Linked DNA regions of Homo sapiens: region 2 is linked to region 1. The links come from fine-mapping of genetic effects on gene expression. Tissue or cell type: whole blood. Region 1 holds a variant in brackets; the other region holds the start of a gene. All regions are shown on one strand. Distances are between the middles of the regions.

The links. PIP is the estimated chance that this variant, and not a neighbour inherited with it, causes the effect.
Region 2: it holds the start of HTRA1, and the variant in region 1 is fine-mapped to the expression of HTRA1 in whole blood (TOPMed, PIP 0.97).

What each region holds. Positions count from the first base shown.
Region 1 is chr10:122,145,109-122,153,211 of GRCh38, forward strand. All of the region lies in intron 7 of TACC2 (transforming acidic coiled-coil containing protein 2), which reads left to right. It overlaps LOC124902518 (a long non-coding RNA gene), which reads right to left. Exons shown (of 2, transcript XR_007062323.1): 1 at 7,412-8,103; 2 at 1,196-1,899. Among named protein-coding and RNA genes, the nearest start is that of BTBD16, 120 kb to the right of the region's middle. The variant G/A (reference allele first, on the strand shown) is at 3,575.
Region 2 is chr10:122,457,642-122,465,733 of GRCh38, forward strand. HTRA1 (HtrA serine peptidase 1) reads left to right here and starts at 3,912. Exons shown (of 9, transcript NM_002775.5): 1 at 3,912-4,483. The coding sequence starts at 4,012. HTRA1-AS1 (HTRA1 and ARMS2 antisense RNA 1) reads right to left here and starts at 3,764. Exons shown (of 3, transcript XR_946382.3): 1 at 3,308-3,764; 2 at 854-2,270.

The DNA of each region.
Region 1 (8,103 bases):
TCTGCCCTTCAGTTTCTTATAAAGGTAAACATAAATCCACAATATGACCCAGCAATCCCATTTTTAGATATTTACCTATGAACGATGAAAATATATGTCTACCTAAAAACTTGTATGCATGTATTCTTCATAATTGCCCCAAATTTGAAACAACCCAGATATCTATCCACTGGTGAAAGGATCAACAAATTGTGGTATATCTATGCCAAGGAATATTACTCACCCATAAAAAGGAACAAGCTATTGATTCATGCAACTAAATTGATGAATCGCAAATGCATTAGGCTAAGTGAGAAAGACTGGACTCAAAAGACTACATTCTACATGATTCAGTCTAGATGAGATTCTGGGAAAGGCAAAACAATAAGGAATGGAAAACAGATCAGTGGGCACTGGGGGCTGGGATTTGTATTGACTACAAATGAGCATGAAGAGATCTTTGTGGGGGGTGATGGAAATGTTCTGTAAAATTTGTGGAACTATATACTTAAAAAGAGTGAATTTTACTATTTTTTGGTATGTAAGTTATACCTCATTTTTTTTAAAAGAACTTATCCAAGGGCTAGAGTAGATTTTTGATGAAATCTAAAATAAAAATTTCAACCTTCAGACCTTTTGCTGATGCAGTGTTAGGGTCAGAGAGCATCTCTGGTGCCTCCTGGCACCAGCAGACACAAGTGGTACCCATTTGCTCTATGTCTTTCTTTCCTGAGGTCAGATGGGCTCACGGCTCTCAACCTGTCATAGAAGGCACACTGGGTGATCTCACCTTTAGCCCTGGAGCCCACTCTGTGTGGGTTGCTTCTGAATCTCATTCATTTACACATCTGAGCCATTCAGCAACATGAACTTGGGATTACTCTGGGCCAATCACTGTGCTAGGGACAGGACACAGAGGTCTGGAAGACAGGCACCGTCCTGCCCTCAAGGAGCATCCAGTGCTGGCAGATAGACATGGAGCAATGAGTTACTAGGGGAGAAGTGCAGCACCCTGGATGGATGCGACCCACAACCTCACTTAGTCTGGGTAGCTGAGGATGGCTTCCCAGGGAATCGACTGAGAGCTTAGGCTGAGTGGGTTTATGTGTGGGCTGGGCCGGAGGTTGCTGAAGATACAGAAGAGAATAGATATTGTTGGGGAGAAACAGCATGTGCATGGACCCTGAGGTCCATCTCAAAAAAAAAAAGTTATCAATATATTGATACATCTTTATTATAATAACTAAAGTCTATAGTTGCTGTGGTTTGAGTATTTGTTGCCTCCAAAATTCATGCTGAAACTTAACCCCCAATCTGGCAGTATTGAGAGGTGAGGCCTTTAAGAGGTGATTGGGTTATGTGGCTCTGCACTCATGAATGGGTTAATCCATTCATGAATTAATGGATTGCTGGGATATCATGGGAGTGGGACTGGTGGCTTTATAAGAAGAGGAAGAAAGACCCGAGCTAGCTTACTCAGCCCCCTCGTTATAGGATACCCTGAACCACCTCTGTACTCTGCAGAGTCCCCACCAGCAAGAAGGCCCTCACCAGATGCTGCCCCTTGACCTTTGACTTCTCAGACTCCATAACTGTAAGAAAACAACTACTTTTCTTTATAAGTTATCTAGTTTCAGGTATTCTGCTATAAGCAACAGAAAATGAACTAATACAATAGTTGATTCACGTTTTCTTAGTTTTTCCCTAATGTCCTTTTTCTGTTCCAGGATCCCATCCAGGAAACCACATTTCCATTTTGTTTCTGTAGGTGCCTCTTGGCTGTGGCTGTTTCTTCTTAGACTTGTCTTGTTTCTGATGACCTTGACAGTTCTAAGGAGTTCTGGTTGGGTATTTAGTAGGATGCCCCACTATTGGAATTTGTCTGATGCTTTTCTCATGATTGGACTGGGCCTGTGGGTTCTGGGAGGAAGAACAGAGATCAAGTGTCATTTTCATCACATCCTATCAAGGGTACATACCATCGACATGACATATCACTGCTGACATTGACCTCAGTTGCTTGGCTGAGGTCATGTTTGTTGACTGTCTCCACTGTAAAGTTACTTTTTTTTTTTGAGACAGAGTCTCACTCTGTCACCCAGGCTGGAGTGCAGTGGTGCCATCTCCACTCACTGCAACCTCCACCCCAGAAGCTCAAGCGATTCTCCTGCCTCAACCTCCTGAGTAGCTGGGATTACAGGCTCCCGCCACTACGCCTGGCTAATTTTTGTATTTTTAGTGGAGTCAAGGTTTCACCATGTTGGCCAGGCTGGTCTCAAACTCCTGACCTCAAGTGACCCGTCCGCCTTGACCTCTCACAGTGCTGGGATTACAGGCATGAGCCACTGCGCCCCGCCAAGTTCCTTTTTTTCCCCCATTTCAGTACTGTCGTCTGTGGAAGGAAGTCACTGTGTGCACATTTAAGGGGTGGAGAGTTGTGCTCCTCCTCTGTTAGGGTGGAACATCTACAGAAATTATTTAGAGTTTTTCTGCACAGGAGATTTTTCTGTTCTCCTTCATTTATTAATTGATTCAATCATGTATTTATATCTGCATGGACTCCTGGATATTCATTTTATTCTTTGGGTTATAACCCAATACTACGTTATTTCATTGCTCCAATTGTAGCAGCTTTGGTCATGGGCTCCTTGGGCTTTCTTTTAAGAGTGTCCAGAAGCCCCCAGGCAGTACAGTGATACGATCGGATCTGCATTGTTAAAGACCTGGCCAGCTGCCTGCCAAGACAGGAGTGGTTTTAGGATTGAGGCCCCCATTTCCTGGGGCTCCCTGACAGCTGTGGTTCCATCACCTTCAGTGCACTCTCCACCTCGACTCTCTCCACAGCTGCTTTCAACCATGCGGCCATGGCCTGGATCCAGGGATCCAATCAACCGTGTTTTTTCCCTTTGGATGAGTTCCTGGAGGTTTTCAAAGCAAGTTTCGAAAATGTAAGGTTGAACATTTGATTTCACTGAAATGGAAGTCGTTATTCACCCAGGCTGAGCCAGAATTTTTTTTTTTTTTTTTTTTTTTTAGGCAGAGTTTCGCTCTCATAGCCCAGGCTGGAGTGCAATGGCGTGATCTCTTCTCACTGCAACTTCCGCCTCCCGGGTTTAAGCAGTTCTCCTGCCTCAGCCTCCCTAGTAGCTGGGATTATAGGCACCCGCCACCATGCCTGGCTAATTTTTGTATTTTTAGTAGAGATGGGGTTTCACCATGTCGACCAGGCTGGTCTCGAACTCCTGACCTCAGGTGATCCGACCGCCTCAGCCTCCCAAAGTGCTGGGATTACAGGCGTGAGCCACCATGCCCAGCCCTGGGCCAGAATTTGAGGTCCTGGATGGACTCTTGATTTTGGAAATACGTCTTCCATGGGTTCCTGCCACCAGCCAGGCATCGCCTGTTGGAGCCAGCGTGCCTTCTGGGTGTTATGCGCAGGCAGCTGCAGTGCCCGCCATATCTGTGGCTTTGTCTTCTCTCTTTGGGTTTGGAGGGGAGCAGCGAGGCAGTGAGACCTGGTGTATTGACAAAGAAAGCCCAGGGCACATCTTATTACAGAATTGACAGATGCTCTGTTCTTGCAAACATGCTGGGT[G/A]ACTTCCTGCTGCCTCTTCCTGCTTCTTGCGGCTGCTGTGGAAACGATGACACAATCCCACGTTTCCAGTGCAAATGGCTTTTCTCCAGGAGTTTTCACACTCCCCTCCCCCCACTCTCATTGGTAATCATTAGGCCGTAGGCCTTGGGGAGAACAGATGTGACTTTGAGAGGGAGAAAAGTGAGGTTCTGGGAAGGAGAGAGAGCTTCAAGTCTCTGCCTCCTATCCCTGCCTGGGAGGGAGACCATTGCTGCAGTCACCACGCTTCTGATGGGCCTTCCTTTCCCCTCCATCGTAGCCCTCCTGAGGCTTTGTGGGGTCAGCAGGTCACCCTGACTTTTCCAGAGCTGTCAGCTCTTTGGAGAGCTGTACGAGGCTGAAGCCAGGCGAGGGGTCTGATAATAAGAATTTCCAGGAATACAAGCTGAAAGCCCTCACCTCACCAAGGCAGCCACAGCTGACCTCTGAGAGCTTGTGGCAAAGAGCCTGGTGTGTTGGACATGAGCTGAGTGGGTGTGGGTGTGAGCCCACGCAAGCATCATCTCTGTTCAGAGTTGGCCTCTCACTCCCTGCTGCGGACAGCTGTCCCCTAGGAATTGGTGACTTGGAAACCTGGCCAAGGGCTGTCTGGATAGACGCGGGAGAAACGGGATGGGAGAAGCAGCTGAGCTTCTTGCAGGGAGGAGGAAGCCGGATCCCCGGTGCTGGGCAGGAGGCCCAGGAGACACCCCTTGAGAAATGCTACCCTGAGCTGCAGACTGTGGCGGCTGTGGCGTTGGCTCTTCAGGCTTTCCTGTGAGGTGCCCCCACACTCCCGGCCCCACCCGCCCTGGGCAGCTGCCCCAAATTGCTCCCTTCCCTCTGTCAACACTTCTCCAAGACTCCAGAGTTTTTCCTGCGCAGGAGGGGAAGGGCAGAAACCTCCCCATTCCCTCCACCCGAGTTAGAGAAGTCAGCCCTTTGGAAAACATGATGCATCTTCGCTCTGGAGCCAGTTCGCCAGTCCGCTCCCCAGCGCGGCACTTTGCCTTGTAGGCGGGGTGCAGATGAGCCTCTCTGCCTCACTAGGGAAAGGGGCTGGGTTGTTGGGCTGAGGGTCTCCGGGGATTAGACTCTGCGCTGACCAAACTGGGCTCTCGTGGCATCATTCCTTGGTTACGCAGGTCAAGTTTCCATTGTTCTCTTGCCTCTGAGGCCCACTGGGTCCGGGGCAGACTGAGCATAACTACGCTGAGCCACGTCACCGGCCGGTGAGACGCGCGGAGGCATTGATGGGTCCCCTGGTTCCCGCTCAGTCTCCGAAATGTGAGCTGCCGCGGAGTGGGTGCTGGGCTGTCCCGCTGGCTTCAGCCTGAGGAGCAGGAGCAGAGGGCGTCAGTTAGATGGTGGCTCCCTCAGTTCCGTGGGCCCAGGTCTGCAGTTCTTTTCCTCCTTCTGGGAGGGGAGGGGAAGGAGAGCCGGCAGCAGCGGGGCTCCCTGGCCCTACTCTGGGGGCACAGCTGGGAGAAGCTGCAAAGCTTCAGCTTGTGACGCCATCTGGGCGGCAGTCCCACGGCCCCTAGAGCAGCTGGGAAGGGGATCCCGCCCTGAAATGGGGCTCAGGGAGGAACATATGGGCAGGCATCTGTGAGGGCGTGGCTGGACGTGCTCAGCACAGCACTGGTGGGTGGAAGGTTCCAGGGCAGTGTGGGGGCCCTTCTTGCCCTGAATAGGGGCAGCTGAGGCCAGGAGCCCACCCTCCTCCCCGAGCACGGCTGCCCAGGGACGGCCCTCGGCTTCCACTTGATGGTTTTAGGTGCTTGCCCTGCGGGAGGCTGCGTTCCTTCCAAGCCAAATGCGTGCTCTCCAGCCCTCAGACCCAGTGGAGGTGCAGAAAGAGGGGTGGCCAGGAGACGGCTGGTCACAGAGTGCCCCAAAGGTGGTGGAGAAATAGACCCCCAAACCAAGGGAGGCAGGGCCCAGGGAGGTGGGGTAGGATGGGATATGGTACGAGCATGTGCGGCTCAGGACCCCACCATGCCCGAGTGCCTCGCCGTGTTGATGAGCCAGTTTCTTTAATACTTCGCTGTCAGGAGAAGGACCTGCTGAGCGCTGGAGTCTAGGTGGAGTCATGCAGCGTTCCTGGGTCCTTTCTTCTGCTTTGTTTGCATTTTTTGATCCTGCCAGCCAGCCTCTCGGCAGATACATCCCGGTTGATTCTATGCCACGGACTATTCGGAAGGTGGCGCAGGGGAAGGAGCATGAAGTTGGAAAGACAGGCCTATTTACCAGCTGTGTGACATGGCATGAGTTACTTGACTACTCTGAGCCTTGGTTTACCCATCTTTAAGATAGGGCTAGTAGTACCCACCTCTTGGGGGTTATTGTGAGTAGTAAATGTACATGAAGAATGTAGCTCAGTGTTTGACAAGTAGGAGGCATTGAATTCACATTCCCCCCACTCCAACTCCCAGCAGTGATGGGGAAAAGGAGGCAGACAGAGACAGCTGTTCTGGAAACAGAAAAATACAACATGATAAACTTAACATAGTACAACCTGATAAACTCTCCAATAGAGCTGAGAACAAAAGACTCAAGAGAAGGGAGCACCTGACTCTGCCTGGAGAAGTTGGGAAGGCTTCCCAGAGGAGGCGGCATCACCACTGAGTTTTGCAGCATGGCTAGGTGTTTGCTGAGGGTAAAGAAGGGCAAAAGTGCTTCAGGGAAGAGGAACCAAATGTGCCAAAGCTTGGGGTGTGGCGAGGCCCAGCAGATTCAGGCAGCAGGTCAGAGAGGAACTGGAGGGACTAGAGGGAGGTACGGCGGTCTCAGACAGAGCAGCAGGGTGAGCAGCCAAGGTGGCCATGGTCCTCAGATTTAGAGGGGCCTGCAGCCAGACTGGGGAGTTTGCTGGTGCCAAAGAAGTGCAAAGAAACATGTCTTCTCTTTTCAAGCAGGGGAGAGTCAGGATGGAATTTAGTTTGGGGAAATATCTCTGGTGGCGAGGAGGAGGGTGGGTGGAGGAGAGGCCAGAGGTCAGAGGGCCATGTGGAAGTTGTTCCTGTGGTCCAAGTGGGAGACAGTGGTGGCCTGAACTAAAGCAGTGGCCGTGGGGATGGAGGGGACCTGGGTCTGTCTTTGTGCCTTGCATTCATCCATTCACCAACGTTGATTGAGCATTTGCTCTGTGCAAGGCTGAAGGCAGGTGCTGGGATACAGTGGTGACCCTGCAACGTGGGCCACAGTATGTCTGAGGGTGACACTGCGGAGGTGACTACTCCCAGGCTGGACTGTGACTCTGGGCAGGGGCTCGCTGGGAGAAGTTGCCCAGGGCCTGGGGCTTGGCACCAGCATTTCCTCCCCTTACTGCCCAAGGCTGGGGCCCAGGGCCAGAAGGGTATAATTCCCCATGTGGCTCCACCAAACATGGAGACCTTGGAGTGTTCTCCTGGGCTAAGAGGCAAAGGATGGTGGCTCTTTGAGGATGACTTGCCCACCTTGTGCCCCACCTTGGTGTCCCTGCTCCCATCTCTGTCTAAATACCGTCTTGCTGAGCATCATTTCCTGGCTTTGCAGAAAGAATTACAGGGTCCTGCCTGCCTTTCTTGGGTTTAGATAATGGAGCTGAAAGCCAATGAATAAAATCAGAATGATTTCTTAAAGAGGGATGGAAGATCCAACAACAACAACAAAAAGAAATAAGCAAACACAAATGAAAGGGGGAAGTCTCCCAGGTCGGAGGACCTGCAGTCTGGCCAGAGCGGCTCTGCTCAAACCACAGGGAGAAGCTTAACATTGTGGCCAGTACACATGTACTAACCCCATATGTGTCCACGATTGGCACGGACCTTCCCTTACTTGGTGGGCTGCAGTGATACTCTATTCCATTCCATTCCATAAACGCGTGTTGACACGGCTGACTTGATGACATGATTCCCTGGTGCATCGTCCCTGCTTCATTTCCAAGAGGAGGCAGCTTGTCCCGAGGTTGGCACGTGGTACCAGCAGTGCCTCTGCCAACACAGCCTGAGACATCTGTCCAGACTGACGTAGTTGGGGAAATGGGCCGAGCCATCCTGCATCCTCACTCTCTGTGGCCAGAACGCTGACTGTTGCAGCACTGTTTGGCAGGACTCAGGGTGGGAACTGGGACCTTGTGGAGAAAAGGGTGGAGAGCAACATAATAGGCTCTGACTGGGATTAGGTTTCAGGTTCTCCCTGGAGCATCACAGAGTGGCTCTAGTTTTCTTCCTCTTGTGATAACATCTGGCCTTTACTGAGTACTTTCTATGTACCAGGCACTGAGAGCAATGCTTTTGATATATATTTCTTTCTTTCTTTTTTTTTTGAGACGGAGTCTCACTTGCTCTGTCTCCCAGGCTGCAGTGCAGTGGTGTGATCTCGGCTCACTGCAGCCTCCGCCTCCCAGGTTCAGGCAATTGTCCTGCCTCAGCATCTTGAGTAGATGGGATTACAGGCATAGGTCACCACGCCCGGCTAAGTTTTGTATTTTTAGTAAAGACAGAGTTTCACCATGTTGGCCTGGCTGG
Region 2 (8,092 bases), 310 kb after region 1:
GGGATGGGAGTGGGTCTGGCACTCTGAGGAAAGGGGGTGAAACCAGCTGAGAAGTCATCTTTTACCTGCTGGCATGGCCCCAGCCAGGGTTCTGTTGCTATGGGAGAATGGGTGAGTAGGGATGGATTACACCACCCTGGATCTAGAGGACAACCTGGCTTGAGGGGCATGGGGGACGCTGGAAGTCAGGGTAAGAAGCTTGGACTTCATTCTACTGGCATGGAGAGCCCCTGGAAACTACTGAGCAGTAGAGGGATAGGCTAAGCTTATAGGAGGAGCCAAAATTATTACTGTAGCTCCTTAGATCTTAGATCCTGTGACTTAGGAAAGGCAATAGGAGCCCCTGAGCATTCTGGGTCCTTTGTACATTTGGGAGAACAGAGGCCCGGAGTGGGAAATCGTCCTCCTGGGCAGCACAAACATGGCTGCTCCATTCCTATTCAGAAGCCTCGTTTCCTGATTAAGGCTCTGGCATCTGTGGTGTTTCATTGTTCATTATTCATGAATAGACTTGGCCCTGTTCAAAACTAAAGCTTCAATGCTGCAAATGAGGGCTGCAGAGAGGATGTTGGGGAACTCGTCTGTTTGGCTTCAAAACTGCCCCCTTTCCTCTGGAAAAATCCTCTCTAGAATACCGTGCCAAGGCCTGGTGAGTGAGAAATGAGTTTTCATGATGTATCAAAAGAAAAATGCTTCTTTTAAGAAAACGTCTTTATAAATGGCAGCAGATGGGGAAGAATCTAAAAGAAAGAGCAACGCTTGCAGGTTGAAAGCATTACCTCCAGATATGGAGACGTTAGGACTAAGGGAAGGTCAGAGATGGGCCCACGAGGCCAGGTTTCAATGGACTTACCATTTCCTTCTTCGTGCATCCACTGATGGACACACGTAGGCACACGCACCAACAGCCTCCCATGTGGACAGTCCAGGGTGCCCAGAACCCTTCCAGCAAGACTTTGATTTCTGTTTCGAAGGATTTCTTGAGGCCCCTCTGTAGAGCTGCTTGTCTTCTTCATAACCGGTGCCTGGGTCAGAGCAGGTGGGGTGAGCTGCACTCACAGCTGGGAGGTGAGTCTGTGATCTCATTGTGCAGTGGCCCTGCCAGGTTGCTCTTTCTAAAACCTTGGGTATTGCAAATTCTGCTTCTTAGGGACCGCTTGGTCCCCCAGTCCTCCCCCTGCTGACTCCCTTCCTGATGAAGCCACCAGCATGGCTCTCAGGGTAGTGCTGTCTTCCTTCTCTAGAACAGCCACGTGGCCCCAGGGCTGGCACTTACTGGTCACCGTGGTTACAGACGCCTCTTCTAGGCTGTGAACTGTCACAGGAGTGGGTCCACTTCGGCCGACACTTCCTCAGGGGTATTAAGTAGCTGGGGGTCCCCCTGAGTCTCCATCACCCTCTTACCCATTCTCCACCCCCTCCCCCACCACACATACACTCTACTCCCCCAGTGCTGAATAACTTGCCAAAGCACTGTGCTGGCACTGGGGCATGGTAAAGAAGACGGGGCCTCTGCCCTAGGGAGGAGGTGATGAGGGCAGGAATAGCAGCACAGAGGGTGAGAGGCAGAGACAATGGCACTGAGTGGGGGCACGAGGATGGAAGAGGAGCATGCTAGATGGGACGATGGGACCCAGCACTGACCAAATAGAAGCTTGTGGGTGGCACATCAGTCACTCCAGGGACATATGTGGTCACTGCCATTTTCCTAATGAAACTCCTCCAGTTATTAAACAAAGGCCCAGAGTCACAGACTTAAGGACCAGAAGTGGGATTTGAACCCAAGTCCCCCAGATGACAGGGCTCCCACGTGCTTCTCTAGGTCACATGAGCCCACGCTGGAGGGGAGGAGGGGTGTTTCAAGAAGAGGGGAGATGTGGGCAAAGAAAGGCACAGAGACCGTAAGCAGACAGGTGTGTTCCAGAAAATGCAAGTTATTTGGCACTGGGGGAGCAGAATGTATATGTGGTGGGGGAGGGGTGGAAAATGGGTGAGAGGGTGGTGGAGACTCAGTGGGATCCCCAGCTACTTAATTCCCCAACAGGGAAAGAGCCTAGAAACTCCCTCCACCTCCCGCAAAGCAGTGGGGAAGTTGCGGCCACACTGTTTTCGGTCCGCTCATTCCCTCTGCAGTCTGGCTGCTCAGGGGGATGGAGGAGGATGGGGCTTGCAGGCAGGCACAGCCGGTTTGGAAGGTGTCCTGGCTCCAGCACTCAACTTGTGGCATGACACTCAGGGGAGTCACCCTTTCTGGCCCTCAGTTTTCTCCTCTGTAAAATAAGGAAATTCGACAAAAATAAGTTATCACCAATTTATTCACCACCACGTGTCCTTTTAATTCCATCTGCCCCAGGACTGCAGTGGGGAGTCTTTCTTTGCCGATGGACTTCGAAAATCATCACCCCCCGCATTTTTTGTGGTTAACCACAGCTAGCCAGGAACTCAGGGCTTCTCATCAGCAGAGGCCTCTGCCTCTCCAGTATCCAGGGCCGAATGGATTTTGGGTCAAGGCCTCCCTCCCGCAGCCAGGAGGCCCTGGCTTTATGGAATATCGCTTGGAGTCCAGGGAGTCAGCATGGGGACCCCGACAGCTTTCCCATGCCCCAGGCTCCTGGGCCTTTCTGGGGGACCCCTCTGGACCTTGGGCATTAACAAGGTTCATATTTGGAAGGTGCTTTGAGGGGGCTTATAGGTATTTGGAGTTTACTTTTTAAACTATTTGTATTGGAAAAATAACGTGTGCACAAGGGAACAACCCAAATACAGAAGAATATTAAAATCCCCAAGCCCCCAGCCCCCTCCCATGCTACTCTATCCCAAAGTCAGCTCTGCCGGCTCACCCAACCCTGGGTGCCTCTGCCCAGGGTGGGGGTGGAGGTTTGAGGGTTCGGGATGAGGGCTGGACGAAGGGCCTCCTCTCAGGTCCTTGGACACGAGCTGTGCCCATCTGCTCAGTGTGGACCCAGGACTACTGCCCACAGGCCTGGTGCTGCCTGGGCACCCAGACCCACCTCCAGGGTCGCCCTCAGCCCTCCTGATGACTCTCGGACTCGCATCTGTCCCAACGGATGCACCAAAGATTCTCCAGTGGGAAATCAAATTTTTGATAACAAGTGTTTTGAAATAATCACGCACTTGGTGAAAAATCAAAAGAGGGGAAAACCCCTTTCCCATCTGAGACCGCTCCACCCTCGCCAGTTACGAGCTGCCGAGCCGCTTCCTAGGCTCTCTGCGAATACGGACACGCATGCCACCCACAACAACTTTTTAAAAGAATCAGACGTGTGAAGGATTCTATTCGAATTACTTCTGCTCTCTGCTTTTATCACTTCACTGTGGGTCTGGGCGCGGGCTTTCTGCCAGCTCCGCGGACGCTGCCTTCGTCCGGCCGCAGAGGCCCCGCGGTCAGGGTCCCGCGTGCGGGGTACCGGGGGCAGAACCAGCGCGTGACCGGGGTCCGCGGTGCCGCAACGCCCCGGGTCTGCGCAGAGGCCCCTGCAGTCCCTGCCCGGCCCAGTCCGAGCTTCCCGGGCGGGCCCCCAGTCCGGCGATTTGCAGGAACTTTCCCCGGCGCTCCCACGCGAAGCCGCCGCAGGGCCCCCTTGCAAAGTTCCATTAGTTTGAAGGACGCGAATCTCAGCGAGAGAACCTGCGGAAAGCGAATATGTGGGGCGCGCAGACGGGGAAACTGAGTCCCGCGAGAGGGCCGGCCTGTGCGCTGCCCCGCCCGCGCCCCGCCAGCACCGCCGTGCCCGGGCGCGCCCGCCCTGCCCCCTCCGCGGGCGGTCCCGGTCCAGCCGCCCGCCCTCCCTCCCGCCATCCGGCCAGCCCCCATCCCGGGCGCCGTGCCCGTCCCCAAGGCGGCTCGTCACCGCTGCGAGGCCAATGGGCTGGGCCGCGCGGCCGCGCGCACTCGCACCCGCTGCCCCCGAGGCCCTCCTGCACTCTCCCCGGCGCCGCTCTCCGGCCCTCGCCCTGTCCGCCGCCACCGCCGCCGCCGCCAGAGTCGCCATGCAGATCCCGCGCGCCGCTCTTCTCCCGCTGCTGCTGCTGCTGCTGGCGGCGCCCGCCTCGGCGCAGCTGTCCCGGGCCGGCCGCTCGGCGCCTTTGGCCGCCGGGTGCCCAGACCGCTGCGAGCCGGCGCGCTGCCCGCCGCAGCCGGAGCACTGCGAGGGCGGCCGGGCCCGGGACGCGTGCGGCTGCTGCGAGGTGTGCGGCGCGCCCGAGGGCGCCGCGTGCGGCCTGCAGGAGGGCCCGTGCGGCGAGGGGCTGCAGTGCGTGGTGCCCTTCGGGGTGCCAGCCTCGGCCACGGTGCGGCGGCGCGCGCAGGCCGGCCTCTGTGTGTGCGCCAGCAGCGAGCCGGTGTGCGGCAGCGACGCCAACACCTACGCCAACCTGTGCCAGCTGCGCGCCGCCAGCCGCCGCTCCGAGAGGCTGCACCGGCCGCCGGTCATCGTCCTGCAGCGCGGAGCCTGCGGCCAAGGTACTCCGCCGCGCTCCTGGGCAGCTCCCCACTCTCTCCATCCCAGCTCGGACCTGCTTCTGCGGGACTGGTGGGCAGGTTGAGGGGCAGCGAAGCGTTGTGGGGTGGCCAGGGCAACTCTCGGGGACAGGCAGGTGGGCCCCGGGGTGGCGGATTTCCGCGGGCTGCCTCGGAACCGAGCTTCGCGCCCAGCCCGGGGCCGGTTCTGCGCCCAGACGATGCCAGTACGCCCGGCCTGCACTCTGGGGCTCGAGACGCCGGGCGACCGGCCATGGAGTGCCCTGAGGGCAACCACACAGCGCGGGGACCCCAGGACAAATAAGAGGAATGGGGGCATAAAGGAAGGAGAGAAGTTCAGGACTGGGAATTGGCGCCTCGCAGAGCGGCTTCAGGACCACAAGAAGTCATTTCGGTTGCTTTTTCTTCTATTTACGTCCTCCGTCCCCTTTAAAATTCACTGCTTTGATCACGGGACCGCTCAGTGAAAACTGTATGTAACTCTTTTGGAAAGGAACAGTGTTTGCCGGCCCGCCCCGGAGTTTCTCCAAAAAGTCTACCCCGAGCAGGGAACGGTTTGGCACCGCTCTCGTTTCGGCGGCGTTGCTGCCTGTCTTGCTTTCCTCGTTTTGAGCCAGCCCTACAAAAATGAAAGTGGCTCCTTTTGAATAAGCTGAATCGGGCTTTGGATCACGAAATCTGCAGAGGCGGAGAAGGGACCGGGTTAGTGATGAGGAAGAAGTCTACCCCTCTGTTCCTACAGCCGCACACAGGACCTGTTCTGGCAGGGGAGACGGTGGTGATGGGGGAAGGAGTGGAATGGAGCAATGTCTAACTCTCTCGCGGGACCTTCCGGAGAGATGCTCCTCATCTTCAGGCAGAGGCCATGTGGAAAAATAATATCGAGTTCAGCAGCGGCCAGCCCCGCGTTGTAGGAACCAGACAGCGGGGCTTGGCAGTGCGCTTGGGCGCAGCCGTGCCGCTGCTGCCGGACCCCAGTGCTGCCTCCTCAACACGGGCAGTGCCAGGAGAGGGGCATAGGGGAGCACAGTGCAGAGGGACTGGTCTAGAGTTTACTTTATAGGAATATGGTTCGGTGTGACCAACTAGGGCTTAGCATAGTTTGGCTTACGTGGACGGGAAGATGCCAGAGCCGAACTGGGTGAAATTCGAGATTGCGTATTTCACCAACACAGGAGCACAGCCCTCGGGAAACTCAGCCTAGTCAGGCAGTAGAGAGTTGTCCCGGAGAGAAGTGATCCTGCAGACTCGAGAAGGGGCATGATGATAGCACACGTCTGTTGAGCACCCAGTCTGTGTGCCGGGTGTGTTACCTCTGTGACCTCATTTGGTCAAACGAGGAGGCAGTTGCTCCTCTCTCTCTCTTTTTTTTTCTTAAGAGACAGGGTCTCCCTCTGTCGCCCATGCTGGAGTGTAGTGGTGTGATCATGGCTCACTGCAGCCTCCGACCCCTGGGCTCAATGATTCTCCTGCTTCAGCCTCCCAAGTGGCTGGGACTACAGGCGGATGCCACCACACCCAGCTTCTCATTCCCGTTTTACAGATAGCGGAGCTAAGGTTGAAAAACTTGCCCAAGGTCATTCAGCTGGAATTTAAACCCAGACAGCCTCATTCAGAGGAGTCAGCCCAGCACTTAACTCCAAGGGTGTGGGAGAGGGGTCAGGTGCTGTAAATTTCCTGGTGGGCTGGACGTGCATCCCCCTCAGAGCTGGGAACAGCATACACAAAGCCTAAGACTTGTTTGGAGGTGAATAGATCAGTGTGGCTGGGGAACGTTTTGGGAGGGCAGCAGGAGTGAGCCAGGCTGGTGGCCCAGAGTCCCAGGGCTGAAGAGGCTGGCTGTGCCCCGTGCCCTGTGCGCAGATGTTCTTGAACTGGAGCAACTCAAAGCCTAGTGTAGTGTAGGGCTGACCTAGCAGTGGAGTGCGGAATGCATCCAGGGTGGAGAGTTTAGACTACTGCAATAATCTGGGTGTGAGGCGACAACATTGAAAAAGCATGTTTTTGTCCAAAACAAGCCAGCTGTTACTGGTCTCGCTGTTTGTGGTCTCATCGCACGGGGTCCTGAGTTGCTGGCACCATGCGAGCCGCCTAATTTATTGCTAGTGAGGCAAGTTGCTTAACAAGTTTTGGAGTTGGCTGAGTCCCTGTGTGGAGGAAAACAGGTCCCCCATTGGCCATCGGGCTCACAGCGGGCCCCCGGTGTACCAGTGAGGGGACAGCCACAGAGGGATAAGCATGGTGGCTTTGAAAGGAGGGAGAGACAGAGTGGGTACAATGCTTTTCTTATCCCTCCCTCCTTCTTTTGCAAATATTTATTGAGCTCTGTAGGGTGTCTGACACCGTTTGCATGTTTGTCTGTCTGGCACATCGGAGGTACTTGGTACGAGTGGATTAGTGAATGAATAAATGAATGAATGAAGACAAACGGGAGGTGCTTGCGATACACAGCCATTCTGTTTTTCCTTAGTGGAAGGCACTGCTTTGCTGCGCCCCCTCTCTGGATCTCACACTCCACCCTTGACTTTTCGGAGGTGTTTCCGAGGACAGGCGCCTGGGAGCCAGCAGACTTCATTCAGTCCAAGCCAGGCTCCAGGACTCAACAGCTGGTGCCCACGGGCAGGTCACTTGACGTCACTGTTAAATGAGGTGAATTGGCTGCCTGCTCTGGCTGGAAGATTGGCGGGAGAGTCACTTTAGCTGCCATGGACATGAGCCTTTTCTAGGGGTGCCACTTGACTAGAGGCCTGGAGTTGGAGCAAGTCATACACGGATCTGGAGACAGAGCTCTCGAGGCAGGAGCGGGTGCTGCGATTTCAAATATTATAAGGTGGCTTTGTCTGGGGCAGAGCATGCCAGGGGATGAGAGGTAGAAATGTCATCAGATCAGGGGTCCCCAGGGAGGTGACTAGCACTTTGGGTCACAGTAGATCTTTGGATAGAGGAACATGTCACCATTCAAAGGAAAGCACTTTCATCTGTAAGCTGTTTATTGAATAGACCTCAGAGAACATCTCTGCTCACCGCTCTGGAAATGAAGGCAAATCATCTATTTCAGAAGTCAATGCACTGGCAGGGTTTGGATGGGAAAGTATACAATTCAGCTAGAGAACAAAGATCTGTCATCTCCAGCTGTACTGGTCAGATGATTACAAAAAAGAAAGGAATTGAAATACTAATAGGGTACTAATAATGAGGGCTAACATATATGTTGTGCTTATTCTATGCCGGGTGCATACTAATTCATTTGATCCTCCGGACAGTCCTATGAGTGAGTGCTGTAGTCTTCCCTGGGTTACAGCTGGGCAGCTAAGTCACAGAGAAGTACCTTGCTCAGGACTGGTGGTCCCACACAACTGGATGGAGAGCCTCGTTCATAACCACCATGCTGTGCTGTTGACAGAGCAACAGAGATTTTAAACCAACCCCAGCTAAGCCCCAGCTAATAGCTGAAATAAACAGGGCTCCAGATGGCTGTGGCTTAGAGATGGAACAGGACAGATCACAGCCTTCACTCTGCAGGCTCAGGAGCCTGAAGACAAGGTTGCCTCCAGTTGCCGTCAGTGCAGCCCTCACTAAAGAAAAGCAAAA